4 separate regions of the Homo sapiens genome follow, and all the other regions are linked to region 4. Evidence: fine-mapped expression QTL. A gene starts in region 4. Each other region holds a variant in brackets. All regions are shown on one strand. Distances are between the middles of the regions. Region 1 overlaps PPP2R3C (protein phosphatase 2 regulatory subunit B''gamma). Region 2 overlaps PPP2R3C (protein phosphatase 2 regulatory subunit B''gamma). Region 3 has its middle 37 kb from the start of BAZ1A. Region 4 holds the start of FAM177A1 (family with sequence similarity 177 member A1).

Region 1 (7,457 bases), 68 kb after region 4:
GAATCACCTAGGGCCTTAAACAAAAATAACAAACAACACTATGTTTGGGGTACATGACCCATGCAAACTCAGCGGCTGCTTCTGGTGGGAACTGCTGCTTCAGAGCCTATGTAGTACCACTCTGTAGTACGGACTCCATTAGGCACCAAGAAATCCTGCATGATTTAAGTAGCACAAATGAGAAATGGTTAACATCTAAAGCAACTTTTTGCTTTGTTCTTACCTGTAATTCTTCATTATCTAACAGTTCTCTGCTTTTTCTTTGTAGAAAGACAGCTCTTGATTCCTCTCTTAATTTCTGTAGTAAGACTTCATCTTCAGCAGGCAGCTGAAAATACAAGGTAAATTTCTACATGTAAATTTTAGACTACTGGATCCTATAAAATGTATGTGGCCTCATAAAATAACTGTATGCCACCGCCTCGAATTATTTCTTGTATCTCACCTTAATTGTGCTTAACATTTGTTTAACAAAAACTGATCCACAGAGAATCGGTGATCAGAAAGGCTGGATCTCTGCCCTGAAAAAGCCATTCTAAAAGCTAGTCTAGACCAAGTTTCATTTTATTTTCTTAAAGCACTGTGTTTCTATTGTCACCTTAGAATGACACAGAATTGGCTGGGCATGCTGGCTTCCTTAGAATGATATAGAATTGGCTGGGGGCAGTGGCTCACACCCGTAATCCCAGCACTTTGGGTGGCCGAGGCAGGCGGATCATGAAGTCAAGAGATCGACCATCCTGGCCAACACTGTGCAACCCCGTCTCTACTAAAAATACAAAAATTAGCTGGGCATGGTGGCATGTGCCTGTAGTCCCAGCTACTCAGGAGGCTGAGGCAGGAGAATTGCTTAAACCCAGGAGGCGGAGGTTGCAGTGAGCTGAGATCACGCCACTACACTCCAGCCTGGCAACAGAGCGAGACTCCATCTACCAAAAAAAAAAAAAAAAAAAAAAGAATGATATAGAAGAATTAAATGAGGATTAACTGGAGATTGACAATTTCAAAACCACCTTTGCAAAATTATAACAGTGACAAAATGATGACAGTGAAAGAGATCTGACCTAACCAACTCCATCTTGTTTTTAACCTCCAATCTGCCCTTGGTCATTCCTGGGCATGGGCCAAGATATTAATAAATTTGGGAGAAATTTAGTTTATGATTTAAATGATAATAGCTCATCCCAAAACTAAACTGCCTTTGTAAAACTAATGAAAGGACACCAGGTCAGGAGGATGCGAAGGACCAGAATTCTGCTAAGATGCAGGTCAGTTAAATGATTAGCAGTTATTATTCCAGAGGGCACAAAAATTTGCAACATCCTCAATTACTCCTGTAAATAACATCACTATTGTAGTACACAGGACTGGCCTTTTGAGATGTCTTTTCAGGCTTTTGCACTTCTGACTACCCAATGGCCCCTCTCAGACCAGCCACTCCTCTGTGGCCCCAACCCAGAAGCAGACTCAGCACGCAAGGACCAGGACTGTTTTTCTATATCCCTGTGATTCCATCCCCAACCAATCAGCAGTACCCATTCCCTAGCCCCTGCCTACCAAACTATCCTTGAAAAACCCTAGCCTCCAACTTTTCAAGAAGGCTGATTTGAGTAATAATAAAACTCCTGTCTCCCATTTAGCTGTCTCCATGTATATGAAATTATTTCTCTCTTGCAATTCCCATCTTGATAAATTGGCTCTATCTGGGTAGCAGGCAAGAAGAACCTGTTGGGTGGTTCTTACCTGTAATTCTTCCTGTCCAGCAAAAACCATTTATTCTTCTTGTCCAGTTTTAGGAAAGCATGCCTGTTGAGATTGGATCACCTTTCTTCTTGGAGACAGTCAAGGCAGTGCCTATTATGTTGGCCTCCCAGGCAAGAGGGTTTGCCAACTGGGGTGATTTCCATGAGCAGAGCTTTAGAATGATTCATTCCAACCTGACTTAGAACAATTTGCTTTATTTCTTCTTTTTTAAATTAATAATAGAGGCAGGGTCTTGCTATGTTGCCCAGGTTGGTCTTGAAGTCCTGGACTCAAGCAGTCCTCCCACCTTGGCCTCCCAAAGTGCTAGGATTACAGGCATGAGCCACCACACCCAGCCAGAATAATTTACTTTAAAGAGTTCTTCTTCCTTTTCTACATCTTAGCCCCATTAAATTACCTCGGTAAACCTTACGTCAAAACTTGGGGTTATGGTTTTCATCTTTCATTTCCAGGAACTAAGATGCCATCCCTCCCATCAGAAGGAACAGAGTTAAAGGAGTATAAACCAAAAATAAAATTCTAAGGCCCCCCAACCATCTGAATGGACTTCCTCCTCAGTCAGCGCCCTTAAAATTTAACCTGAGAGACTGTTTCAGGGCATGATGGGAAGTGGGGGTCAAACATGCCTCGTTATACCTCTCTGGCATTAACATCAACACAGACTTTAAGTCTAATAAGAAACATTTTGCAACCTATTCTCTCTGAAGCCTGCTAGCTAAAAGCTTCATCTGCATGATAAAACCTTGGTCGCTACAGCCTCTTATCTTAACCCAGACATTCCTTTCTGTTTGATCCCAGGTCTTTAGACAAACTCAGCCAAGTGTCAACCAGAAAACATTTGAATTTACCTGTAGCCTGGAAGCCCCACTTCAAATTGTCCCACCTTTCTGGATCAAACCAATGTATTTCTCAAATGTATTTGATTGATGTCTCATGCCTCCCTAAAATGTATGAAACCAAGCTGCACCCAAACCACCTTTGGTACATGTTCTCAGGATCTCTTGAAGGCTGTGTCACAGGCCATGGCCACTCATATTTGGCTCAGAATAAATCTCTTCAAATATTTTACAGAGTTCAACTCTTCGTCAACAGAAGAAACATTAGGAGATGGGGATGGGGCTGGAGTTGGGGGTGACTGACATTGTGTTCTAGTGGCTAGTTAACCAGCTAATCAGCCAAGGAGAGAAGTGGTGACTCAAGATAATAGGTGTTTTCTCTGAAGCAGTGGGACCATGGAGAGGAAGAAGAAAGAAGGGAAAGGACTTTTTTACAAATCCATAGCTGCAGACAGGAGACCATCTAAGATCTAGAGGTGGCCAAAGAGAGAAGTGACACGAAGAAAGGAAAAAAAGGAGATTCCCTCAGGAACCAGAAAAAGAAGGCAAAGGTTTGGTCCCGGAAGTACAAGAAAGTTCAGTCCTGGGCTCAGGAACGGGGTCACACCATTCCTATCCAAGAGCTGTTAGGAATGAGACAGAGTAGGAATGGGGGCTTGGGTCAGCTCACTCCCACTATGGCACTCTTTTCATGCATTCCCACTGATCACAAAACCCACACCACTACCTCACTGACACCATAATGTCCAAACCATGCCTTTTACTCAAAAGAATTCCAGTAACTAGGAGATAACCAAAGTTGTGAAGTGAGTGTCCTATCTGGGGAAGGAATGCTGAACAACTGATTTACAGCCTTGTTGCCTCTAGCCAGACCAGGTGGCCCGCTGCTCAAGATAACCATAGCAACCAGACAATGCTGACCTGCATACCCTACCTGATCTGCTTTGCCCAGCCCAGCCTGCATACCCCACCCTAATATCAATTCCTGATTTTTTTT[T/A]AAAAAGCCCTACCAGCTCTTTTCAGAGTCAGGTGCTCTCTCTCCCTTTTGCATTGAGAACCCAAGAACCTATGTTCGATAACAGTAACATATTATTTAAGAATCCAGGTTAAATGAGATAAAGAATACAAAGGGCTCTGCAGTGCTTAGACACTCAATAAATGTCAATTCCCTTCTCTCTCCCCTCGGCTATCAAAAATATTCAGTTATTTAGCTGCCTCTGTTTAAGGAGAGTGTGAAATGCAAAAAGCAGTAAAGGTATGTATGATGTAATCCCATTTAAAAAAATACACAGATACCCACAGAAATATGTAGAAAGATTCATATAAAATGTTCTGTTTACATTGTTGGGTGATGTTGTCATGGGAAGAGATCAACTTGTTTAGCCATATTTTTTCCTTTTCTACAATAAATATAGGCTAGGATTACAGGCATATGATTCTTAAAAGGTTGAGAAGTATATAGTATTATAGGAAGGTTTCCAATAAAAAATGTTCGGTTGAAAAAAATTTGCACTTGAAGAAATATTTCAGTATCTGGATAACTCACTTATATAAATACCTTAATCTGTAAGAACACCAGCTAAATCATTGTTTACTATACTTGCAAATAACGTTGTAATTAATAGAGTTAGAAGGTAATAGGTTCAAGGAACATCCAGCTAAGATTCCAGTTAACTTGTATAATACTAAATAGGTATTTTTCAGTAGATTTCAGTTTCAGGTATAAATAGCTTTTTATTTTTATTTTTTTTAAATAGACAAAATAGACCTTAAGAAAAAAAAATAGACCTCTAAAAAAAAAGATGGGATGGGCCAGCATGGTGGCTCACGCCTGTAATCCCAGCACTTTGGGAGGCCGAGGCAGGTAGATCACCTGAGATCAGGAGTACGAGACCAGCCTGGCCAACATGGTGAAACCCGGTCTCTACTAAAAATACAAAAACTAGCTGGGCGTGGTGGCGCACACCTATAATCCCAGCTACTTAGGAGGGCTGAGGCAGGAGAATCACTTGAACCTGGGAGGCAGAGGTCGCAGTGAGCTGAGATCGTGCCATTGCACTCCGGCCTGGGCAACAGAGTGAGACTCCATCTCAAAAAAAAAACAAAAAGATGGGGTGTGGGGTGGTCTCACTATGTTGCCCAGGCTGGTCTCAAACTGCTGAGCTTAAGAGATTCTCCCTTCCTCACCCTCTCAGAGTAGCTGGGACTACAGGCGAATTGCCCTACCATTGCCAGGTTGTAAACGGCTTTTTTTTTTTTCTTTTTCTTTTTTTTTTTTTGAGATAGGCTCTTGCTCTGCCACCCAGGCTGGAATGCAGTGGCATGATCACAGCTCACTGCAGCCTCAAGCTCCTGAGCTCAAGCGATCCTTCCACCTCAGCCTCCTGAGTAGCGGGGACTACAGGTGCGCACCACCATGCCCGGCTAAGTTTTTTTTGGAGAGACACGATCTCACCAAGTTGCCCAGACTGGTTCTCAAACTCCTGGCCTCAAGTGATCCTCCTGATTTGATGGCCTCCCAAAGTGACAGGATTATAGGTGTGAGTCACCACACCTGGCCAACATTTTTTTTTTGAGACAGGGTCTTTGCTCTATCACCCAGGCTGGAGTGCAGTGACCCTACCATGAATAGCTTTTCTTAAGGTCTATTTTGTCTATACGTCCCTTCATAGCCATTTTCAGAGTTTTGGCACAAGGAAAAAATAATCAAGTGAAATTCCTTTTTTGTTTGTTTGTTTGAGACAGAGCCTTGCTCTGTCACCCAGGCTGGAGTGCAGTGGCGCGATCTGGGCTCACTACAACCTCCACCTCCTGGGTTCAAGTGATTCTCCTGCCTCAGCCTCCTGAGTAGCTAGGATTACCGGCGCGCGCCACCACGCCTGGCTAATTTTTGTATTTTGAGTAGAGACAGGGTTTCACCATGTTGGTCAGGCTGGTCTCGAACTCCTGACCTCATGATCCACCACCCACCTTGGCCTCCCAAAGTGTTGGGATTACAGGCATGAGCCACCATGCCTGGCCTCAAGTGAAATTCTTTAGGTTTTCCATAATCTATTTTTCGGTTTAGCCTTGAGCAAAATTTTAAAACTTTATAACAAAGTGTATACCTGATAACATAATCCAATAGAATACTTACTACTAATATCTATAATAAAAATCAGAAAGAAAAAGCCCACAGTTTAACAACTTTGTGTTTACATACCCACTTAAATCTAAACTTGGGATTTTATTGGGCTCAAAATGTTTTATAATAGTGATAAGATCAATTACAATAAAATAATATATAAAATTTAAAATATAATTCTCTATTTTTAAAACATAAAATTCTGGTCCTATTTTTAAAACTACTTTTTTTTCTGGGGGTGGGGAGGACAGGGTCTAACTCTGTTACCCAGGCTGGAGTGCAGTGACACAATCACGGCTCACTGCTGCCTCGATCTCCTGGGCTCAAGTAATCCTCCTGCTTCAGCCTCCTGAGAAGCTAGGACTACAGGCATGCATCACCATGTCCAGCTATTTTTTAAAAAATTTCTTTTAGAGATGGGATCTTGCTATGTTGCCCTGGCTGGTCTCAAATTCCTGGACTCAAGTGATCCTCCCGCCTCAGCCTCCCAAAGTGTTGGGATTACAGGTATGAGCCACCCTGCCTTGCCAAAAATTATATTTCATTTTTAAACTCTGCAGGACATTTGATTAGACACTACTTACCCTATAATAAAACCGGGGAATGGTCTTATAGAATTCATTTGTGTTTTTTCTACCTCCTTTCCATTCGGAGTAATATTTTGTAAATAAATCCATTTCTTCATCTTTTAATTCTTGTTCACTTTTTTTTTCTGGTAACAAAACAGATTAAGGGGAGCACTTTTAAAATCAAGCAGTACTTTTACTCAGGTCATCCTATATATTATATTAATAGTTTAATTAAAATAGTTGCAGTGCCAAAAAGGCCTTCACAATTGTGCTTAGACACTGAGCATATTAACTTTTCTGAAATACCAAGAATCACTACCCTCTACTGAAGCAGCCTCCTCTACATCTTCAACCATTTCTCATGCTCCCTCTACTTCTGTTTATCGCTAAAGCTAGTCTCTTCCTCAAATTACCTCTCCTACAGAACTCTGTAGAGTGCTCCTAATTCATTCAATGAAAAGAATTTACTGAGCACCTACTATGTACAGAGAACGCTGTAGTAGACACGGAATGAGGGGTGAGCAAGACAGCCCCAGCCCCTGACCTCATGGAGTTTCAGCCTCATAATCACTGTTTCTCTACCTAATGTAGAGAAAACAAACAAAAAAACTCATCCTCTGTCTGAAGCTCAAAACTCAGGGCTCTATTACCCTGCAACTCGCCTGCTATTGGCACGTGGCTGTCTCATTCAGCCAATTCCTCCCCACTTATTTGTGGACTATGGTGACTGGTACACAGTGTTCTTCACAAGGTCCTGCAATCATTTAGGATGAATAAACATTTATGTGGGTGACCATGGGTCCTGCAACTCCAAAGACTTTCACCTCTAGTTCATTCTGCCATTTGGTTCTATGACAAGATCACAGATTTTACTTGATCCCTTTCTGAAATCTTAAGCTCAAATATACTCTCAGATCATCCTTTCTGGTAATTCAAAACCTCACTGCCATACCATTTCCACTTCAGCCTCACTGAGCTCTTGAATTCTGTGATCTATTTTCTCAAAAGTTATTTTACTCTTTCTGGTCTCATTTCCTTCCCAACAAGCCTGTAATTGTTTCCTTGAATTCCTTTTATGACTGCATTTCTGCTGCATCTGTTAATTTTTTTTTTTTTGGAGATGGAGCTTCACTCTTGTTGCCCAGGCTGGGGCGCAATGGTACG
Region 2 (7,457 bases), 60 kb after region 4:
TTTTTTCTGGGAAGGAGGGGAGTCCAAAATATATATTGAATTAATCTATTTCTTGCTTTCTCTACAGCCACCAATTACCCTAGTTATGGGCCCATCATCTCACCTGGACTATCATGGTAGGTGCCTAAATATTTTGCTTATACTCCAGATTTATTTATCTATTTAGAGATGGAGCCTTGCTCTGTCGCCCAAGCTGGAGTGCAGTGGCTCAATCTTGGCTCACTGCAACCTCCATCCCCTGGGTTCAAGTGATTCTCCTGCCTCAGCCTCCAAGTAGCTGGGATTACAGGTGCCTACCCCCATACCCAGCTAATTTTTGTATTTTTAGTGGAGACGGGGTTTCGTCATGTTGGCCAGGCTGGTCTTGAACTCCCGAGCTCAAGCGATCCACCTGCCTCGGCCTCCCAAAGTTGCTGGGATTACGGGCATGAGCCACCGTGCCTGGCCGTACTTTGAGTTCCTTACATCCTCCATACAGCATCCAGAATGATCTTTTAAAATGTAAATCATATCCTGACAGACTCAGCTTAAAACTTCCGATGGTTTCCCGTTAGCCTCAAAATAAATCCAAAGTCCTTACTGTGGCCCAAAAGGCCCTACATGTGGCCCCTGCCTACTTCTCCAACTTCATTTTCTGTTACTATAGTCCTTGTTCTAGCCACACTGGCTTCCTTCTGTTCCTAGAACAGGTCCAGGCTTAATTTTGCCTTGGAGACACTGTATTTGCCGTTTCCTCTATACTACATCTTCATAAGGCTGGCTTCTTTCTCGTACTTCATGGCTAAAACTTAATCACTATCTCAAAAAGATGCTCCTTCCAGCCTACCTAAAATCGTCTGTCAATCCCAGTCATATTCCTGCCTAGTTTACTGTTTTATTTTCTACATATAACTTGTCACTATTTGATATTATCTGCTTATAATTTAGTGTCTGTCTTCCCACTCTGCTAGAAAAAATAGGTCTACAAGGGAATGAAAATTGTACTGTGTCCCTGGAAAGGTTTTAAAGTATAACATTTAGAATGAGCTAACAGATTCCATCTACAGAAATCTGGGCAAGAAAACAAAAAAAAGAAAAAAAAGAAATCTGGGCAAACAGATTGTCACAAAGTAAAACATGAGCCCTACAAGCTTAGAATAATACCTGCCCCCAAATAAATGTCTACTAAATGCTTAATAAGATTTAATAAGTGAATAAAACTTTGTATACTCTACTCAGATTATAAATGTTGGTCTGGAAGCCACTGCCTTTCAAATTAGTAAGACACAAAGTCTGGGTTTCAAAAGGCAATGGGCCAAGGATGGAAGAAATACTTTGAGAAAAGTGTTTTCTTTCATTGAGAGAAGGGGAAAATTATTCCTTTTTAAAAACAACTATAGAAGTACACTGTTTCTTTTCTCTCCCTTTTGCTCATCTCTCTTTCAATCTTTGTTTCCATCCATGGAAAGAGGCAAGACAAGCAGTAACAGGGGACTGTTTTTATAAATCAATATTGCTGTTTTTATAAATCAAGTGAACTGCTAACAAGAATTCTCAGAGCTAGAGAAGTACTCCAGTTTTGGACCTGACCTCTAAACGAGTACCAGCAGGTGGCTAATTATGTCTTCCTTGCCAGAAGCAAGAGCCTTTTATTCTCAAGTTGGTCTGAACCTTAAAGAGAACTGTAGTGTGCCCCTGGAAAGGTTTTACAGTATAAATGTTCAGAATGAGCTAACAGATTCTATCTACAGAAATCTAGACAAAACAGAATGCAACAAATTATAGCAGGAACCATACGAACTATAACAAGAAATTTACATTTCTTTAACCCTTATATCTGAATAATTATTTGATTAATTAACCTAGTTTATATTCATGCCCAACTCCCTTCCCCTCTCCCCTACAATCTTAAAAAAAGCACTGTATATTTGGGAAAAAAGCCTGAGGTGAAAAGTAAGTCCATATAATTTAGATACCCATACTCAGAAGAAGCATAGCCATTTGGACCATGAAGTTATAATTCTCTGTTGATAACTTGGCCTAATTACAGCAGTGCCTAATAGGAAACAAGCAGCCTCTTGGTAACTGACCTAGCAATCTTAAACCCAGAGGTGGGAATACAGTCACATTCATTTTCTCTCTCATATTTTCTTTTTTCTTTTGAGACAGTCTTGCTCTGTTGCCCAGGCTGGAGTGCAGTGGCATGATCTCAGCTTACTGCAACTGCCTCTTGGGTTCAAGCGATTCTCCTGCCTCAGCCACTCTAGTAGCTGGGATTACAGGCATCTGCTACCATGCTCAGCTAATGTTTTTGTATTTTTAATAGAGACAGGGTTTCACCATGTTGATCAGGCTGGTCTCGAAGTCCTGACATCAAGTGATCCACTCGCCTTCACCTCCCAAAGTGCTGGGATTACAGGCGTGAGCTACCGTGTCTGGCTTCTCTTATATTTTCTTAAAAAAAAAAAAGCGGGGGGGTGGAATTCTTGGCCCTTTAAAAAATAGTGACACATTAATATCACTCATGAATAATCAAACGTTTTTCAGTGATTTTTAAATGTTAAAATGCTACATTCTTTTTATTTTCCCCTTTAAAAGGCTTTTTTTTTTGAGACAGTCCGCTCTTGTCACCCAGGCTGGAGTGCAATGGCACAATCTAGGCTCACTGCAACCTCCACCTCCTGGGTTCAAGCGATTCTCTTGTCTCAGCCTCCTGAGTAGCTGGGATTACAGGTGGCCACCACCATGCCTGGCTAATTTTTGTATTTTTAGTAGAGACGGGGTTTCTCCATGTTGGTCAGGCTGGTCTTGAACTCCTGACCTCAAGATCTGCCCACCTCGGCCTCCCAAAATGCTGGGATTATAGGCATGAGCCACCGCGCCCAGCCAAAAGGCCTTTTTTTTTTAAAGTTTGAAGAAAAAGAATCTAAAAAGGAATTTGTATAGTCAATATACATTAAACATTTGTTTAGTAACACATGTCATTTGTTAAAAAAAATAAAAATAAAAAACCAAACCCCAAAACGGAAACATCCTGTGTCTCAACAAAAACTATATGGAATCAACACCACCGAGGTCTATGGAAAAAAAAAGAAAAACCTGTTCCCTTTGCTCTGCTGGAAGCTGGAAGGTGCTAGGCCCTTGTGTAGTCGTGCATAGAATTCTAGCTGCTTTCCTCTATTGAGCGCAGAGTATACTATGTCTCTATGTGAATATGGACAGTTAGCATTTACCAACATCTCCTTGTCTACTGTGTCTTTTTTTTTTTGAGATGGAGTCTCGCTCTTTCGCCCAGGTTGGAGTGCAGTGGCGTGATCTCGGCTCACTGCAAGCTCCGCCTCCTGGGTTCATGCCATTCTCCTGCCTCAGCCTCCCAAGTAGCTGGAACTACAGGTGCCTGCCACCACGCCCGGCTAATTTTTTTTTGTATTTTTAGTAGAGATGGGGTTTCACCGTGTTAGCCAGAATGGTCTCGATCTCCTGACCTCGTGATCCGCCCGCCTCGGCCTCCCAAAGTGCTGGGATTACAGGCGTGAGCCACCACGCCCGGCATCCTTGTCTACTGTCTCTTATTTAAAAAAAGAAAATAAATTTTACAAAATGGGGTTATAGGTCAGCAAAGGGTAGGTTTGAAACGTTTTGATAGTTTAAAGTGAGCATTTTGACAACGTTGCTTTTCCTTTGGCATGTTTAATTGTGATTTTTAAGGGGCATCCTTGCAGTTTAAAATGACACCTTTAAAATAAATTCTCTCTCTCTTTTTTTTTGAGACAGGGTCTCCCTCTGTTGCCCAGGCTGGAGTGCAGTGGTGCAATCTCGGCTCACTGCAACCTCTGCCTCCCAGATTCAAGCGATTCTCCCACCTCAGCCCCTTGAATAGCTGGGATTACAGGTATGCACCACCACAGCCCAGCAAATTTTTCTATTTTTAGTAGAGATGGAATTTCACCATATTGGTCAGGCTGGTCTCAAACTCCTGACCTCAGGTGACCCGCCCACGTCAGCCTCCCAAAGTGCTGGGAGTACAGGCCTTGGGAATACAGGCGTGAGCCACTGCACCCAGCCAATAC[AT/A]TTTTTTTTTTTTTTTTTTTTGAGACGGAGTTTCACTCTTGTTGCCCAGGCTGGAGTGCAATGGCGCTATCTCGGTTCACAGCAACCTCTGCCTCCTGGGTTCAAGTGATTCTCCTGCCTCAGCCTTCCAAGTAGCTGGGATTACAGGTATGTGCCACCAAGCCTGGCTAATTTTGTATTTTTAGTAGAGATAGGGTTTCTCCATGTTGGTCAGGCTGGTCTCAAACTCCCGACCTCAGGTGATCCGCCTGCCTCATCCTTCCAAAGTGCTGGGATTACAGGTGTGAGCTACCACACCCAGCATAAATTCTCTCTTAATGATGACTTGAAGGCTGCTACTCCATGGGAGAATCAGTAGAACCTGTAGGATCTTATTTGGAATTGACATTCTCTATTGTAATTTTGTTTATTTTAAATTTGTTTTTTGTTTCACTGGAAAGATGATGTTCAATTTTAAAAGTTGAAAGTGTACAAGTTGCTTTGTTACAGTAAAACTAAATATGTACACACAAACACACACAGACAGAAATAAAACAAAGTATTATGAGAACAGCCTGTAATCCCAACACCCAGTGATAACTACAGTTTACATTTTAGTGTCTATAAGAGTTAATATAATATCTATAAGGTTAACACTTACAGATTCCCGAAGGTACCCCTGCCCAGCGACATCATATAAACTGAGTCCTATTCTTGTTTGATGAAGCCAAACTGACAATAAACAAGAAAATGAAAGTAATTCTTAAGATCTATCCTTCAGATATGAAAAAGGAGATAAAGAGCCAGATTTGAGACAAGCTAATCTAGTAACTCTAAAAACATTTCTTCTCACCACAAAATTGCTTGAAACAAAAAACCATAGAATGGAAGAGTTCAACAATTCTACCATGACTAAAGCTATAATAAAATTGACACCTTGAAGATACTGTTCTTTACCAATTAAACTTGGTGTTCCACCAAACAGGGACAGCTAGTATAATATTATGCCTTCAGTGAAGCTGCTTTTATTTCTGAGGTTAATTACAGCAACCAATTATTAAAGATTGTATACAATAGGCTTTCACAGATTATTATGGCACTTGTAGGAATCATAAGTCCAAGCTGTTTAATTGATGCTCCTTGAAACTGATATTACAGCTTTGGGTTTGAAACTATCAGTCAACTCAACTTGTAATATACTGGTAAAATAAAATTATCAGTAAATTAAAATTATTTCAAATTACCATACATTAAAACTCTTGGTTCAGCTCTTAATATTTCTAGTCTACTATTATCTTTAAGACACATGAGGGTTTAAAAAATTTTTGTTTTTTTATGCTAACCCAAGTTTATGTAACACATCTTGGTCAAAAGATAAGAAATTCTACTATTCAAACTTAGAGTGATTTCACATAGAAGAAATACTTATAAAAGCACAGACCAAAAACCTACTTGATTCCCAGATAAGGAGTTCAAGCACAGTAAAAATGAATCACCTTTTCTCATGACATAATTAAAGAACTGCATGATGGAAATTCTTCCATATGAATCTGTATGAAGGAGTTTAGCAAAGACTTTTGCTGTGAAAAATTGCCTAAGAAAAGAAAATAAAGATTTAAATGATCTGCCAACATAAAAGAAAATGACTTCTACATAAATTAGCAAACAATGGCATAAATTCATACAATTAAAAATGAAAGAACAATAGAGACTCCTTATAATTCAAAAACTTAAAATATTAAGTCAAACTTTTTTTTTTTTTTAAAAGAAATGGAGATTTGGCCAGGCGCAGTGGCTCTTGCCTGTAATCCCAGCACTTTGGGAGGCTGAGGCAGGCACATCATGAGTCAAGAGATCGAGACCATTTTGGCCAACATGGTGAAACCCCGTCTCTAGTAAAAATACAAAAAGTATTTGTATTGGGTATTTATATTGTATTATATTGTATTTATATTGGCCCAGCCAATATTTGAGGCATTTAAAATGCTTAACATATTCTTTTGTTAATACAATAATACTTGGGAGGCTGAGGCAGGAGAATCACTTGAACCCAGGAGGCGGAGGTTATAGTGAGCTGAGATTGCGCCACTCCCCTGCAGCCTAGCGACAGAGCAAGACTCCATCTCAAAAAAAAAGATAAATATATATATATAAACAGAGATTTGCTCTGTTGCCCTGACTGATCTCGAACTCCTGGCCTCAAGTGATCCACCTGCCTTGGCCTCCCAAAGCACTGGAATTACAAACGTGAGGCACCATGCCTAGCCTAAGTCATAAATGTTTGCATTCTTTTTTTTTTTAATTAAAAGTTTTTTTTATTTTGCAGAGATGGGCACGTGAGCCACAGTGCCTGGCCTTGCATTCTTTTTTGTTTGCTTTCGTCTGTCTTAAGGCTGAAAGTGTCATAAACTATATTATTTCTTTTTTTTTTTTGAGATGGAGTCTTGCTCTTTTGCCAAGCTGGAGTGCAGTGGCACGATCTCGGCTCACTGCAACCTCCGCCTCCAGGGTTCAAGCGATTCTCCTGCCTCAGCCTCCTGAGTAGCTGGGATTACAGGCACACGCCACCACGCCCAGCTAATTTTTGTATTTTTAGTAGAGACGGGGTTTCACCATGTTGGTCAGGATGGTCTTGTTCTCTTGACCTCGTGATCCGCTCACCTCAGCCTCCCAAAGTGCTGGGATTACAGGCATGAGCCACCACACCTGGCTATATTATTTATTTTAATAACTTCATACCAATGTGATTTTTTGACTGTAAATAATTTTATTAAATTTAATTAGTAACTTAAATGGACTCAAATGTCATTCCATTTACTTCATTTAATATTTGAGGATTTGTTTATTTTTTTTAAAGGTAAGGTCTTGCTCTATCGCCCAGGCTGGAGTGCAGTGGCTTAATCACAGCTCATCCTCCCGGGCTCAAGCAATTCTCCCACCTCAGCCTCCGGAGTAGCTACAGGTGTACGCCCCCACACCCAGATAATTTTTTTAGTAGAGACAAGATCTCCCTAAGTTGCCCAGGCTGGCCTCAAACACCCCAGCTCAAGCAATCCTCTCACCTCAGCCTCCAAAACTGCTGGGATTACAGGTGTGAGCCACTGTGCCCAGCCAATATTTGAGGCATTTAAAATGCTTAACATAACACATTCTTTTGTTAATTATATTATTCTTACTTGCACTTTGCTCCAGCCTTTTCACCAACCTTCAAAAAGTTTTCGTAATTGATCATCGCTTCCTCTCCAATCATAGGTGGTGTCTGGTGTTTGTCCAGCAAAAACCATAAGTTCTTAAGAGAATTGTGGAAGTGAAGATGTTGTAAGTTAAAAACAACAAGATTTTAATATGTAGTTAAATGTGTGCTTTCCACTAAAATGAGAGTTTGTTGGCAGAGTCAATATTAAGATGAATCTCATGCCCTATTATCC
Region 3 (7,457 bases), 130 kb before region 4:
GACCTAAATGTAAGAGTTAAAATTGCAAGAGTATTAGAATAAAAAATAGGTATAAATCTTCATGCCTAAGTGAGGTGGCTCATGCCTATAATCCTAGCACTTCTGAGATGGGCAGATCACTTGAGCACAGGTGTTTGAGACCAACCTCAGGAACATGGCAAAACCTCGTCTCTATTAAAAATACAAAAAAATTAGCTGGTGTGGTGGCATGTACCTGTAGTCCCAGCTACTCCGGAGGTTGAGGTGGGAGGATCACCTAAGCCCGGGAAGTGGAGGCTGCCATGAGCTGAGATTGTACCACTGCACTCCAGCCTGGGAGACAGGAGTGAGAAATCAACTCAAAAACAAACAAAACAACAACAACAACAAAACCTTTGTAACTTTGGATTAGGCAATAGTTTCTAAAATATAATACCTAAAGCCTAAGCAACCATAGAAAAAATAGATAAATTGGACTTCAGAAAAATTAAAAGCTTTTAGGCCGGGCGTGATGGCTCATGCCTGTAATCCCAGCACTTTGGGAGGCAGAGGCAAGTGGATTAGCTGAGGTCAGGAGTGTGAGACCAGCCTGGCCAGTATGGTGAAACCCCACCTCTACTAAAAAAAAAACACACAAAAATTAGCTGGGTGTGGTGGTGTGTGCCTGTAGTCCCAGCTACTTGGGAGGCGGAGACAGGAGAATTGCTTGAACCCAGGAGGTGGAGGTTGCAGTGGACCAAGATTGTGCCACGGCACTCCAGCCTGGATGACAGAGTAAGACTCCATCTCAAAAAATAGAAATACAGGCTGGGCGTGGTGGCTCACGCCTGTAATCCCAGCACTTTGGGAGGCTGAGGCGGGCAGATCACGAGGTCAGGAGATCGAGACCATCCTGGCTAACAGGGTGAAACCCGTCTCTACTAAAAATACAAAAAAATTAGCCGGGCGTGGTGGCGGGCACCTCTAGTCCCAGCTACTCAGGAGGCTGAGGCAGGAGAATGACATGAACCCAGGAGGTGGAGCTTGCAGTGATCTGAGATCATGCCACTGCACTCCAGCCTGGGCAACAGAGCGAGACTCCATCTCAAAATAAATAAATAAATAAATAAAAATACAGGCTGGGCATGGTGGCTCACGCCTGTAATCCCAGCACTTTGGGAGGCCGAGGCAGGCAGATTACTTGAGGTCAGGAGTTCGAGACCAGCCTGACCAACGTGGAGAAACCCTGTCTCTACTAAAAATACAAAATCAGCCGGGCGTGGTGGCGCATGCCTGTAATCCTAGCTACTCAGGAGGCCGAGGCAAGAGAATCGCTTGAACCCAGGAGGCGGAGGTTGCAGTGGGCCGAGATCATGCCATTGCCCTCCAGCCCGGGTGACAGAGTGAGACTCCATCTCAAAAAATAAAAATACAAAAATTAGCTGGGTGTGGTGGTGCATGCCTGTAATCCCAGGTACTCGGGAGGTGGAAGCCGGAGAACCACTGGAACTGGGGAGGCAGAGGTTGCAGTGAGCAAAGACTGTGCCACTGCACTCCAGCCTGGGCAACAAGAGCGAAACTCCGTCTCAAAAAAAAAAGAAAAAAAAAAAAAACCCAAGTGAAAAGTAGGCAAAGGACTTGAATAGACATTTCTCTTAAGATGATATAAAAATGGCCAATAAGCACATAAAAAGATATTCAACATTATTAATCATTAGAAAAATCCAACTTCAAAACCACAATTGAATACTACTTCATACCTGCTAGATCAGCTGGGAAGAAAAACTCAGATAATAACAAGTGTTGGTAAAATTTGAGCTCTTGTATATTAACAGTGGAAGTGTAAAATGGTGCAGGTGCTTTGGAAAACAGTTTGGCACTTTCTCAAAATTTAACCCTTTTCCAGTTTAGATTTTAAAAAAACACAGCTCGATGCCAGCACTCATTTAATTTTACTTAAACATGTTCTTTGAGGCTGAAGAAAATCTGACTGATTTTCATGTGAAAATAAAATATAAAAACTGTTCTTGGAGTTATTTCTAAACAGAACTAACATCAGAATCATCTGAACCATCAAAATCGTCTATTTCAGAAAAATCAGATCCATCAAATGAATCTTCAGCCAACAACTGTTTGAGAACGATGCTACGTTTTTTAGGATTTGACATTTTCAGTGATCAAGAATTACTATATTTTATAAACGGAAATACAACTAAAAACAGAATACTATAAATAGAATAATGTTTTTGTTTCCAAAGTCAATACACTAGAGCAATGCAAAAATAATAATAAATATTAATATGCTTACTCATGTATTAATAATACAACAATATTTTGTGGCAAGGTTATCTTGGAGTAAATGCTGCAGCTGCAAGCACCGCTGGCAGGTATTCTTGGGGCAAAGGCGAAAAGGGTTAAACAGAGTTATCATATGACTTAGTAATTCCACAATTCCACCTAAGAGTATTGAGAACATATGTCCACACAAAAACTTGTACCTGAATGTTCATAGCAACTTTATTCGTTATAGTCAAAAAGTGGAAACAACCCAAATGTCCGTCAACTAATGAATGGATAAACAAAATAGCATAACCACTCTGAGGTATATCCGCACAACAGAATATTATTGCACAATAAAAAGGAATGAAGTGCTGATACGTACTACAACATGGATGATCCCTGAAAACATTATACTAAAAAAGAAATCCCATTCCAGTAGGTATAGCTAAAAATAAATAAATACACAAAACATTATCTTTAATGAAAGAAGCCAGTCACAAAAGGTCACATGGTGTATGATTCAGTTTATATTAAATGTCCAGAATAGGAAACTCTGTAGAGGTGGAAAATAGATTAGCAGTTGTCAAGGGCTGTAGGGAGGGGGAATTGGTAGTGACTGCTAATGGATACAGGAGTGATGAGAATGTTCTGAAATTAAATGGTAATA[G/T]TTGAATGAATTTATGAATATACTAAAAAACACTGCATTGTACACTTTAAAAGATACATTATACACTTTAAAAGGTGAGTCTTATAGGATTTTATGAGATTTTATGAAATTTGAATCATATCTCAATTTTTTTAAAAGTGTTTATTGGATTTCTGAGACTCGGGTGTTGTTAGTGGCCTTGTAGAGGAATGTTAGTGGTCAAAGGCAGCTGGCAGTGGACCAAAGAATGAGTGGGAAGTGAAGAATAGTGAGTGTATACAATTCTTTCAAGAAGGTTAGGTGAGAAGAACAGGGCAGTAGCTGAGAGAGATAAAAGGTCAAAGAATATTCTGGTTTTGTTTGTGGTGCTGATGGCAGAAACTTAAGTAGGTTAAAATGCTAATGGAGGCTGGGCGTGGTGGCTCACTCCTATAATCCTAGCACTTTGGGAGGCCAAGGTGGTCAGATTGCTTGAGCTCAGTAGTTCGAGATTAGCCTGGGCAACATGGTGAGACCCCTTCTCTACAAAATATACAAAAATTAGCTGGGCATGCTGGTGCCTGTTGTCCCAGCTACTTGAGGGGCTGAGGTGGGAGGATGGCTTGAGCTTGGGAGGTCGAGGATGCAGTGAGCTGTAATCACGCCACTGCCCTCCAGTGGACCTGTCTCAAAAAAAAAAAAAAAAGATAGTAAGATCCAACTAAGAGGAAGTATACTGAGGAGGAGGATGATAAATAATAGAATAGAATAATTAAGATAGCACAAGGTGGTTAAAATGGAATTAAGAACACAGGTAACTGTTAAATAGGAAGAAAGGTGCTGACTGGGGGAAGTGAAATTATATATATTGAATTAGTTTAATTTGAGGAAGTTAAGACGCGTTTTATCTGAGGACATCTGTTTTCAGGTCAGTTGATGAAAAGTAAGGAAGTGTAGGCGAAGGGTCAGAAATGTGGGAAGATTAGAAAATGTTGGATGTGCTGGCACGGTGTCTCATGCCTGTAATCCCAGCACTTTGGGAGGCTGAGGCAGGTGGATCACTTGAGCCCAGGAGTTTGAGATTTTATTAAAAAAAAAAATCTATCTATCTATCTATAGAAATTGACACTTCTGGTCTTAAAGCTTGAAACTTACATTTATTTTATCTGAGTTACTTCCTCAGGAAAGGACCCCCAGACCTCTGGGAAAGTATCAAATAATTGAAACTCACTGGATCATCTCATCCAATGAGAGGCCAGGCCCCTCATTCATCATGATTGCTTCCTTAACCTTCCCCGAGTTCTTGTTTTCCTACACATTGTTATATTTCTTACCTGCTATATAAACTCCTAATTTTAGTCGGCAGGGGAGATGGATTTGAGACTGAACTCCCATCTCCTCCACTGCAGCACCTGGTCAAAGCCTTTTGCCTTGGCAATACCCGTTGTCTCAGTCATTGGCTTTCTGTGTAGCGAGCAGCAGGACCTAGACTGAACCCACAAAACCACAAATTTATACTATTGGGACAATCGTAACTCAATCTCTAGTCCCTGATGATTTGGGACGTTTAGGGCATCTAATCTGATCAGTTGTTATCTAATGTATCATCGGGTCGTACTTAAATTCCAGAAAATGCCCAGGAAAGGATAATTCTAGTGAAACAAAAAACCCAGTTTGGTCCTGTTACTTCTTATGCTTATGCTAATTGGAATCCCCTGGTAGCACATACTATCTGAAACGTAGCAGAACTCCCAGGAGAATCTATAATACATTTACGGTTTTGGTGATAAGGAACCCCCACTCGCTTGAGTCCCTTAGATCTGTGCTAATCCTACTCTACGCCTCTGGAACAACCCAGGATTCCAAGGATAGACTGGTAGTTTCTCATTAGTTTAATGAAACTGTGGTTTGGACTACATGTGTCAGCTGCTTTCCACTAATATCTGAGTAGGGCTAAACCACAGGAAAATATTGTTTCAAGTATGAAAATAATATTTAAATAGGACAATAATAATTATTCTAGCCGGGCATGGTGGTGCGCACCTATTAGTTCCAGCTACTCAGGAGACTAAGGTGGGAGGATCACTCAGCTCAGGAGTTCAAGACTGCAGAGAGCTATGATCATTGTGTCACTGCCTTCCAGCCTGGGTGACACAGCAAAACCTGGTCTCTACTGTAAAAAAAAAAAAAAAAAAAAAAAAAGAATAATTAGTTTAATAGGATAGAATAAAAATAATTAAAATTTCTTGATTATTGTCCATCTTGTGTTAGGCTTACATTTATACATATCATATGTATATATATGTACATATGATATGTATGAATGTAAGATATGTATAAATGTAAGATATGCAGCACACCAACATGGCACATGTAGACATATGTAACAAACCTGCACGTTGTGCACATGTACCCTAAAACTTAAAGTATCATAATAATAATAAATAATAAAAAAGATATATAGATATATATCTCTCAATTTGTCTTTCTCCCTCTCCTTACCATGGTTTTTGTTTAAAACTATCTTTATTAACAACAATAATTATAAGTGCAGCATGCAATGCTTTCCAAAGCACTTACTCATCCATTATTTTACTGTATGTAAACTTCCATCTCAGCTAGGTTGGAGATGCATTATTACCTCCAGGTTGCTGATGAAGAAACAATGATTAAGCAGTGATTAGTGACTTGTCCAAGATCATATAATTTGTTGGCAGGTGAGTTGTTTTTAGACTTCAGATATCTTTTGTTACTTCTTAACGTATACTTTCTATTCACTATAAGGTTAGTGAGAATTTTGATAAAGGTTTCCTTTTTTTTATTAAAAAAATTTTTTTAGCCTGTATCCTGCTGAAGATAAAGGTTTCCTAGTAAAACTATTCTAAACTTGTTTTTTTTGTTTGCTAGAAAAATGGTTTCAATAGACTTCTTTTTTTTATGGAATCTCGCTCTGTCCCCCACGCGGAATGCAGTGGTGCAAGCTTGGCTCACTGCAACCTCCGCCTCCTGGGTTCAAGCGATTCTCCTGCCTCAGTCTCCTGAGTAGCTGGGATTACAAGCGTGTGCCACCACGCCTGGCTAATTTTTGTATTTTTAGTAGAGACTGGGTTTCACTATGTTGGTCAGGCTGGTCTTGAACTCCTGACCTCGTGATCTACCTGCTTTGGCTTCCCAAAGTGCTGAGATTACAGGCGTGAGCCACTGTGCCCAGCCTAGACTTCTTTTTTAAAAAATGTATGTTGAACATTCAACAAAGGAAAAATGACCATGATTCGTAAAATACTGATATTTAATACTTCTCAACTTTCCAAAACAATGATAGTGATGATATATTTTAATCACATAAGGGGCACTAATTTTAATATGTCTTTACCACTTTATTTTATTTATTTATTTTTGAGACAGGGTCTCATACTCTGTTGCCCAGGCTGGAGTGCAGTGTTTCGATCAGGTCTCACTGCAGCCTTGACCTCCCTGGGCTCAGGTGATTCTCCCACCTCAGCCTACCGAGTAGCTGGAACCACAGGCTCACACCACCACACTTGGCTAATTTTAAAATTTTTTGTAGAGACAGGGTTTTGTCATGTTTGCGCACCCTGATCTCAAACTTCTGAGCTCAAGCAGTCCTCCCTCCTCGGCCTCAAAAAGTGCTGGGATTACAGGTGTGAGCCATTGTGCCCAGCTATTTTATTTTTCAGATAGGGTCTCACTCTGTCACCCAGACTGGAGTGCAGTGTCGCCATCACAGCTCACTGCAGCCTCGACCTCCCCAGGCTCAGGTGATCCTCCCACTTCAGTCTTCCAAGTAGCTGTGCCACCACATCTGGCTAATTTTTTGTATTTTTTGTAGAGATGGGGTTTCGCCACGTGGTGGTCTCAAACTCCTGGCCTCATGTGATCTGCCTGCCTTGGCTTACCAAAATGTTGGGATTACAGGCGTGACCACTGTGTCCTGCCACCACCTTATTTAGTGCTAACTAAACAACTTTCCCTTTGCCAAATGTGATAATAATTTCTTAATTTCTTGTAGAATTACTGATCAGAGTCAACATTCTTTTTTTTTTTTTTTGAGACAGAGTTTCGCTCTTGTTGCCCAGGAGGGAGTGCAATGGCACGATCTCTGCTCACTGCGATTTCTGCCTCCCGGGTTCAAGCAATTCTCCTGCTTCAGCCTCCCAAGTAGCCGGGATTACAGGTGCCCGCCACCATGCCCAGCTAATTTTTGTATATTTAGTAGAGATGGGGTTTCGCCATGTTGGCCAGGCTGGTCTCAAACTCCTGACCTCAGGTGATCCACCTGCCTTGGCTTCTCAAAGTGCTGGGATTACAGGCGTGAGCCACCACACCTGGCCAGGGTCAACGTTCTGAAATAACCTTCAGCATTAGCCAGTACTCACCAAGATCAAATAATCAGCTTTGCTAATTTGTTGTTGTTGTTGTTGTTTGAGATGGAGTCTCGCTCTGTTGCCCAGGCTGGAGTGCAATGGTGAGATCTCGGCTCACTGCAACCTCTGCCTCCCAGGTTCAAGTGATTCTTCTGCCTCAGCCTCCCGAGTAGCTGGGATTACAGGCACTCACCATCATGCCCGGCTAA
Region 4 (7,457 bases):
CACGCCACTGCAATCCAGCCTGGCTGACAGAGTGAGACTGTCTCAAAAAAAAAAAAAAGAAAATTTTGGTGATTGGATATCACTGGTATATTCTCACCACACACACACACACACACACAGACACACACACACACAAAATGACCAAATTTTAATTAACAAAACAAAACCTTACATAACATCAAATCTAAAAATTCACTTGGTATTTTCATCTGCTTCTTACATATAGAGCTTTAAAGCTTACTAAAAGACTTTTAAAAAGAAACATACTTTACTCATTTCCATCCCAATCTTTCCAAACAACATACTCACCTTTGGTGTGGAAATTTCTTGCCTTGCTAACACTTACTGGCCTAGTATTTTTTGACATTTTCATTCTCAGTGGGGCGGAATGGCTAAGTGTGTAGGTGGTGGAATCAGAATGCCTGGGTTTTAATCCCAGCTCTGCTGCTTACCAGCTGCGTCACTGGAGCAAGTTGCTTAACTTCTCTTTGTTTCCTCATCTATAACATGTTGGTAGTTACAGTAATACTTCAGAATTGTTGTGAGGAATAAGAGTTAATACAAAGAAAGCAAAGTACCTGGCATATTGTGCTCCATAAGTGAAACCACTACCATGATTTTAATAACTTATTCAGCCTGGGCAACATGGCAAAACCTCATCTCTACAAAAAATATAAAAATTAGCCAGGTGTGATGGTACACGCCAGCTACTCAGGAGGCTGAGGTGGGAGGATCGTCTGAGTCTGCAGTGAGCCATAATTGTGCCACTGCACTCCAGCCTGGGTGATACAGTAAGGCCCTGTCTCAAAAAAAAAAAAAAAATTTCTTTATGCTTAGACTGAACCTAAAATGCATTTTTATTTTTATCATCTTTTTTTCTTGTGCATTATTTTTGATGAAAATATATTGTCCTGTTTGATGGATAACTTAAAAAATTCTCTATCAAAGTATATATATGTAGCTATGTTAAAACCCTAAGAATGTCTTGTTTATTTGATGAACATTCCTGGTTATCAAATTTTATTCAGATTTATTTTCCCAGCCTTACGCAGAAATGGTTCAATCCAAATTTACCTTTTTAGCTCTATATGTATCATTAAATGATAAATTTAGACCACATTATGTTTTCAAGTAGATAAATTATCATAATACTTGAATTTATTTTTGTCATAGTGCTACGATACAATTTATGTTACAAAGTGAAAGAAGGAAAAATTTGGCACATTGCCTTGGTGCCTACTTTTGGTTGAGCTATAACAGTTTGGAAATAATGACAAAAATATAAATGTCCAAAATAAAACCATTAGAATTTCTATGCTTTTATGTTGCTTTGAGTTGTTGATTTGTTTTGTTTTTGTTTTTTTGAGACGGAGTCTCGCTCTGTCGCCCAGGCTGGAGTGCAGTGGCGCGGTCTCGGCTCACTGCAAGCTCCGCCTCCCGGGTTCACGCCATTCTCCTGCCCCAGCCTCCCGAGTAGCTGGGACTACAGGCGCCCGCCACCACGCCCGGCTAATTTTTTGTATTTTATAGTAGAGACGGGGTTTCACCGTGTTAGCCAGGATGGTCTCGATCTCCTGACCTCGTGATCCACCCGCCTCCGCCTCCCAAAGTGCTGGGATTACAGGCGTGAGCCACCGTGCCCAGCCCGAGTTGTTGATTTGTAATAAACTGCTCTTCAATTGGATATTTGTGTTAAAAATAACTTTTTAGGAAATACTTCCAGTTCACGTTAGAATGTAACTTGTACTTTGAATTTTCAGTAAACTAAGAAATACACATGTAAACTGTGAAAATATATTCTGCTTCGGCAATGAAAATTGTAATTTGAGGCCAGGCGTGGTGGCTCACGCCTGTAATCCCAGCACTTTGGGAGGCTGAGGTGGGTGGATCATCTGAGGTCGGAAGTTCGATACTAGCCTGGCCAACATGGTGAAACCCCGTCTCTACTAACAATACAAAAATTAGCCGGGCGTGGTAGTGCACAACTGTAATCCCAGCTACTTGGCAGGCTGAGGTGGGGGAATCGCTTGAACCCGGGAGGCGGATGTTGCAGTGCGCCAAGATTGCGCCATTGCACTCCAGCGTGGGTGAGACCCCATCTCAAAAAAAAAAAAAAAGAAAAAAAAGAAAAAGAAAATTGTAATTTGATATTTAATTGCCACTTTGGAAAATAAAATCATGCATTTATAAATATCCCACAAAGTTTTAGTAATAAAGATTGTTGATTGCCCTGCTTGCCAGTAAGAAGGAAGAGATTTTGAATACATATAATGCAGAACTGTGTTGTTTATGAATGCCAATTCATGAAGTCTTAACAATTGGTTCTTTATTTTTGTTTTCAATTTATGGCCGAGTTTGGTTTTGCTGTTTTGGACTGTCTCAACTCCCTGCTGATGCCACCATACAGAGTCAGATCAGGTACTAACTTGTTTACTTCAGCAGCAACCTAACTTGATTTTATTACCAGGATAGAGAGCAATATGGATTTCCAACTAGTTTTTAAGGCGTAGATGGTTTTCAAATGATTATTTGTTTTTTAAAGTTTTTGGTTTTGTTTTTAGGTTCCAGTTATACATAGAATAGGAAGTGTACAATAACATTAGGCAGAGGGTAAGGAGAAGAACTTTGGCACAGAAGAGAAAGGAATATTTAATATTTGGGCCTGCTGTTGCTATGATGAAAAACATTTACAAGGTCATACAACTTTAGGGAGCATTTCTGAATTGAGACTAGTATGAAAATGGAATTTAAAGTATCAAATGAAGCCTCCCATAGCCAAAATAATGTATGTTTTGGTTTTGCCCCCTACATATTTGTGAAAACTTTCATGCTAAAACAACAATATACCATTTACCTGCAGAACCTCAGACTTGTTTGATGTTGAAGTCATGCAGTAATTGCATGATTTTTTACTTTCGTTGAACATTGCGAAAGACGGAAAAAATCTGGGACGCCCCCTCTAACATACGCACACGACTTTAAGACACAGATAAAACATTCCTTACATTTGTCAAGATGGAAGCTTACTACTGCCCTTTGCTCTCCTTCAGGTCTTTTCACTTAACACTTTCTACAGTTATACTTAAGTATTTCAGACAAGAGTAAGCAAATATCACGCCTGGGGTTCTTCTTTCGAGGGTATTTTGGCTGGACTGTCACCCACGTTTGGAATGGAAAGTGCAGCACGAGCCGTACATTTTACATTTTTCAGCAACCACATCCCATCACTAGCCTTTGAAGTACAACGACACAGCTGTCTTCATTTTACAAGTGCAAAAACCGAGGTCCTGCGGGGTGACTGCCCCAGACGCCGCTGGTGACGGGCTGCGCCGAGGTCGAGACGCCAGGCTTCAGGTACACGTACCAGAAATGACGTCACAGGCGGTGCCAGGCGGGGATCCACGAGCTCTGGATGCTTGCTTGGCCGGAAGCGACGCCCCGCAAGGACCCGCCCCGCCCCGCCCCGCCCCGCGCGAGCCGGTAGTTGCGCCTCCCAGACTGCAGTTGGCCAGCTCTCGGGGTGCGGAGCCCGGCGGGCTAGGCGAGGCGCGGGCTGGCCCCGCCCCTCAGGCCGGCGAGTCCCCTTCTCAGAGACTTGGCTAGGCGCGGCGCGAGGCGGGCGCTGGGCGGGTGAGTCCCACTTCCCGACAGCCTGGCTCGGCCAGCGACTGGGCGGGGAGACCAAGGATGGAAGTGGGCTTACCGGCCATTACCCTCTTTCTCACCAGCGCCAGCAGCCCTGTGGTGGCGACGACGATGGACCAGGAGCCAGTGGGCGGTGTGGAACGAGGAGAAGCCGTCGCAGCCTCGGGAGCTGCGGCCGCCGCGGCATTCGGGGAATCTGCAGGGCAGGTAGGTGGGGCCGCCGAGGCTGACGTCCGGGGAGCCGAGCCGCCTCCTTGCCTTCTCCGCGGGCCGCTCTTTTAGCCTGCGCGGCCGTCCTCCGAGCAGGCCGCCCCAGCTTTGGAGTTCCTCCTCACTGCACCCCTGTTTCTGCTCACTGAGACCAGCTTGTGGGAAGGAGCGCCCCCCGCCTCACTCACCAACCCCTTGGCTGGCAGCACAGCAGACTCTGGGGCGGCCTCGGGTTCCTGGGGTGATAGTCCAGCTTCTGGTCTACCAGAGGAAGAAGAAAGGCGTGTCCCCCAAAGGCTGTCCTTGCAGTAGCTGGAAGCCAGGTGAGGGCGGCTTCAACCACTTCTCAGTCTCTTCTGGTGCGAGCGCCTGCCTGGGCATCTGCCCTTTGCTTGGCATATGCCAAACGTTTACCAGCTTTAATTCACTGGATCCTTACAGTAACCGCTCGAGGTGGGTGTTAGCCCCATTTCACCGCCGAGGCAACTAAGGCTCCGAGCTGCGCTGTCCAACATAAATAGAATGCAAGCTGCATTGAAAATTGTAATTTAAAATTTTCCAGTAGGCACGTTTTAAAAAAGTGAAACCGATATTAATTTTAATAGCATATCTTATTTAACCTAATTTATCAAAACAATTTCAACCTAAAATTACTATGAAAGTTATTAATGAAGTATTTGCATTCTCTTTTGGAGTCTTTTCTAAGTCTTTTAAATCCTGGGTGCATTTTACACGCATAGCATATCGCAGTTCTGGCTGACCACATTTCAAGTGCGCATTAGCCACATGTGGCTAGTGGTTACTGTATTGGACAGCGCTGGTTTAGAGAGTTAACGTTTCTTGCAACTTTTCAGTATTAGACAAAAAGACACTTTGGGAGGCCAAGGCGGGTGGATCACCTGAGGTCAGGAGTTCAAGACCAGTCTGGCCAACATGGTGAAACCCCTTCTCTACTAAAAATACAAAAATTAGCTGGGCGTGGTGGCGCTCGCCTGTAGTCCCAGCTACTCGGGAGGCTGAGGCAGGAGAATTGCTTGAACCCTGGAGGTGGAGGTTGCAGTGAGCCGAGATCACGCCACTGCACTCCAGGCTGGAGACAGAGCGAGACTCCGTCTCAAAACAGCAACAACAACAACAACAACAACAACAACAAAAAAAAAACCCTTGAGTTGCTCATGTATGTAACTCTTCCCATCCTCCATGAGAATGAAGCTTTTTCAGTAGCTTCATTTTTGAGACTAAGTACCTGAATGTTAGTAAGACATTTCCCCCAAACTGTGAGTATATCTCTGTGTATCTCTTATAGTATAAGATGTCGTTTGCATTAACAAAAGCTTATCCAGCCTGGGCAACAGAGCAAGAACCCATCTCTTAAATAAAAAACTAAAGAAACCCCAAAAACAAAAAACACAACTTTCCCACATACCAAACTCTATATGGAATACGTTTTTTCCCTCCTACTTAAGAAGGGGATTCAGGGGACAACATGAATTGATAAGGAAGCCACGTCATTTTCAGTTGAGTTGAGACCTATTGTTGGCAAGTGCACTTACACTTAACCTTTGAGTCCATGGTGCTTGATATGTTTTTCAATTTGATTTTTCCTGTTGTTACTAGAATTGTTTTTTTAAAATCACTACCTCCGCCCTGGATCTAATAGCAAAGTAAACACACGTGTACTTATATACCAGCTAAATGTTGTTTGAAGTGAGAGGCTCTTTGATTGGGGTTAGTGATATTCTGTTGTTTTCACATTCTTGGTTAACAAATAAGTACTTAACCAGTAAAGAAGGCTGTAGAACAAAAGATAAAAATTCACAGGAATACCCCACCACCACCCTTTCTTCATGTTCTCATTCCCCAAAGGTAACTATTAAGTTTTGGTGTAGTCTCTCTGGAATTTTATCATTCAATATTATATATTTCTTATATATTATATATATTATTAAATATTAAATATCTCTTCTTTCTTGTTAAACACCAATGAGTTCCATTTTCTGATTTGCCCTTTGTGCTTTCAGATTCACATTCCTGAATCAGAAACATCTTTGGGAACTCCAGTTCTATGCCCAGGGGGTTGAGCACAGTAACAGGGAAGTGGACATCTCAGGAGATGGAGAGGCCTCTATCTTACACTTCTTCCCAAGTTTGGCAGAACTGAGAAATCCCTAGTGCAATGTAGGGAAAGGGAGTAAGAGATAGGAGATAGGGTCTAGAATTAGGCCTCCAAACAGGCCATCCAGTACCTGTTGTGACATTCTTTTTTTTTTTTTTTTTAAGACGGAGTCTCACTCTGTGGCCCAGGCTGGAGTGCAGTGGCATGATCTTGGCTCACTGCAACCTCCACCTCCCGGGTTCACGCAATTCTCTTGCCTCAGCCTCCTGAGTAGCTAGGACTACAGGCGCACGCAACCACATCTGGCTAATTTTTGTATTTTTAGTAGAGGTGGGGTTTCACCATCTTGGTCAGGCTGGTCTTGAAGTCCTGACCTTGTGATCCACCTGCTGCCTTGGCCTCCCAAAGTGCTGGGATTACAGGTGTGAGCCACCGCACCCGGCCTCCTGTTGTGACATTCTATCCAGCAGCTTCTCTGAATAGACTTTTAACCAGAATCTCAGCCTCAATGTTTTTAAAGGAGTTAAAATTTCAGTACCACTCAGTGATTGATTTATTTGGTACCTCTGTTACCAAGCACTTACTATGTGCCAGGAACTCTAGGCTGAAAGATATAGCAGTACCTACCCCCATGTTGCTAATAGCCTAGTTGGGGAAGATGACAAAGAATAAATTCTAAGTCTAGTATGTGTTTTAAAGAAGTCTGGGTGCCATGGGAGTATATACAAAAAATTGCCATTAAAACCAGATCCTGAGCTGGGCAGAGTGGCTCACACCTATAATCCCAGCACTTTGGAAGGCTGAGGCCAGTGGATCACTTGAGGTCAGGAGTTCGAGACCAGCCTGGCCAACGTGATGAAACCCTCATCTCTACTAAAAATAGAAAAATTAGCTGGGCATTATGGCTCACGCCTGTAGTCCCAGCTACTCGGGAGGCTGAGGCAGGAGAATCGCTGAAACCCAGGAGGTAGAGGTTGCAGTGAGCCAAGATCGCACCACTGCATTCCAGCCTGGATGACAGAGCAAGACTCCTTTTCAAAAAAGAAAAAAACAGATCCTGAGAATAAAGATAAGCACATTTATAGTTTGGTTAACTATAAAATGGAGTAAAATGTTAATTGACATGGTACCTCATAATTTCCTGGTGTTATGAAACTATCTTTCAGATCTTTGGGGTTCGTTATGGAATTTGCATAATTGGCAGTGAAATTTTTCTTACTTGCAGATTTATAAAATGAAGCATTTGGAAAATTCACAGTGTAACTTTTTTTGTTTTTTGAGACAGAATCTCACTCTGTTGCCCAGGCTGAAGTTCATGGCGCGATCTCGGCTCGCTGCAACCTCCACCTCCCGGGTTCAAGCAATTCTCCTGCCTCAGCCTCCTGTGTAGCTGGGATTATAGGCACGCTCCACCGCGCCTGGCTAATTTTTGTATTTTTTTAGTAGAGGTGGGATTTCACCATGTTAGCCAGGGTGGTCTCACACC

Evidence for each region. PIP is the estimated chance that this variant, and not a neighbour inherited with it, causes the effect. A credible set is the group of variants that fine-mapping cannot tell apart.
Region 1: its variant is the best candidate, but not a certain one, in a credible set for the expression of FAM177A1 in whole blood (INTERVAL, PIP 0.57).
Region 2: its variant is the best candidate, but not a certain one, in a credible set for the expression of FAM177A1 in skin (TwinsUK, PIP 0.71).
Region 3: its variant is the best candidate, but not a certain one, in a credible set for the expression of FAM177A1 in cerebellar hemisphere (GTEx, PIP 0.74).

Annotation. Positions count from the first base shown.
Region 1 is chr14:35,110,302-35,117,758 of GRCh38, forward strand. It overlaps PPP2R3C (protein phosphatase 2 regulatory subunit B''gamma), which reads right to left. Exons shown (of 13, transcript NM_017917.4): 2 at 6,309-6,436; 3 at 224-328. It overlaps LOC101927178 (a long non-coding RNA gene), which reads left to right. Exons shown (of 5, transcript NR_110415.1): 4 at 269-341; 5 at 2,563-2,829. Among named protein-coding and RNA genes, the nearest start is that of PRORP-PSMA6, 7.8 kb to the right of the region's middle. RefSeq lists an enhancer at 2,248-3,029. The variant T/A (reference allele first, on the strand shown) is at 3,598.
Region 2 is chr14:35,102,614-35,110,070 of GRCh38, forward strand. PPP2R3C (protein phosphatase 2 regulatory subunit B''gamma) reads right to left here. Exons shown (of 13, transcript NM_017917.4): 4 at 7,206-7,318; 5 at 5,526-5,623; 6 at 4,691-4,761. It overlaps LOC101927178 (a long non-coding RNA gene), which reads left to right. Exons shown (of 5, transcript NR_110415.1): 3 at 68-116. Among named protein-coding and RNA genes, the nearest start is that of PRORP-PSMA6, 15 kb to the right of the region's middle. RefSeq lists a silencer at 116-283. The variant AT/A (reference allele first, on the strand shown) is at 4,050.
Region 3 is chr14:34,908,829-34,916,285 of GRCh38, forward strand. No RefSeq gene overlaps it. Among named protein-coding and RNA genes, the nearest start is that of BAZ1A, 37 kb to the left of the region's middle. The variant G/T (reference allele first, on the strand shown) is at 2,906.
Region 4 is chr14:35,042,777-35,050,233 of GRCh38, forward strand. FAM177A1 (family with sequence similarity 177 member A1) reads left to right here and starts at 3,496. Exons shown (of 5, transcript NM_173607.5): 1 at 3,496-3,852. The coding sequence starts at 3,688. RefSeq lists enhancers at 3,016-3,215, 3,936-4,205, 4,306-4,365 and a silencer at 3,336-3,685.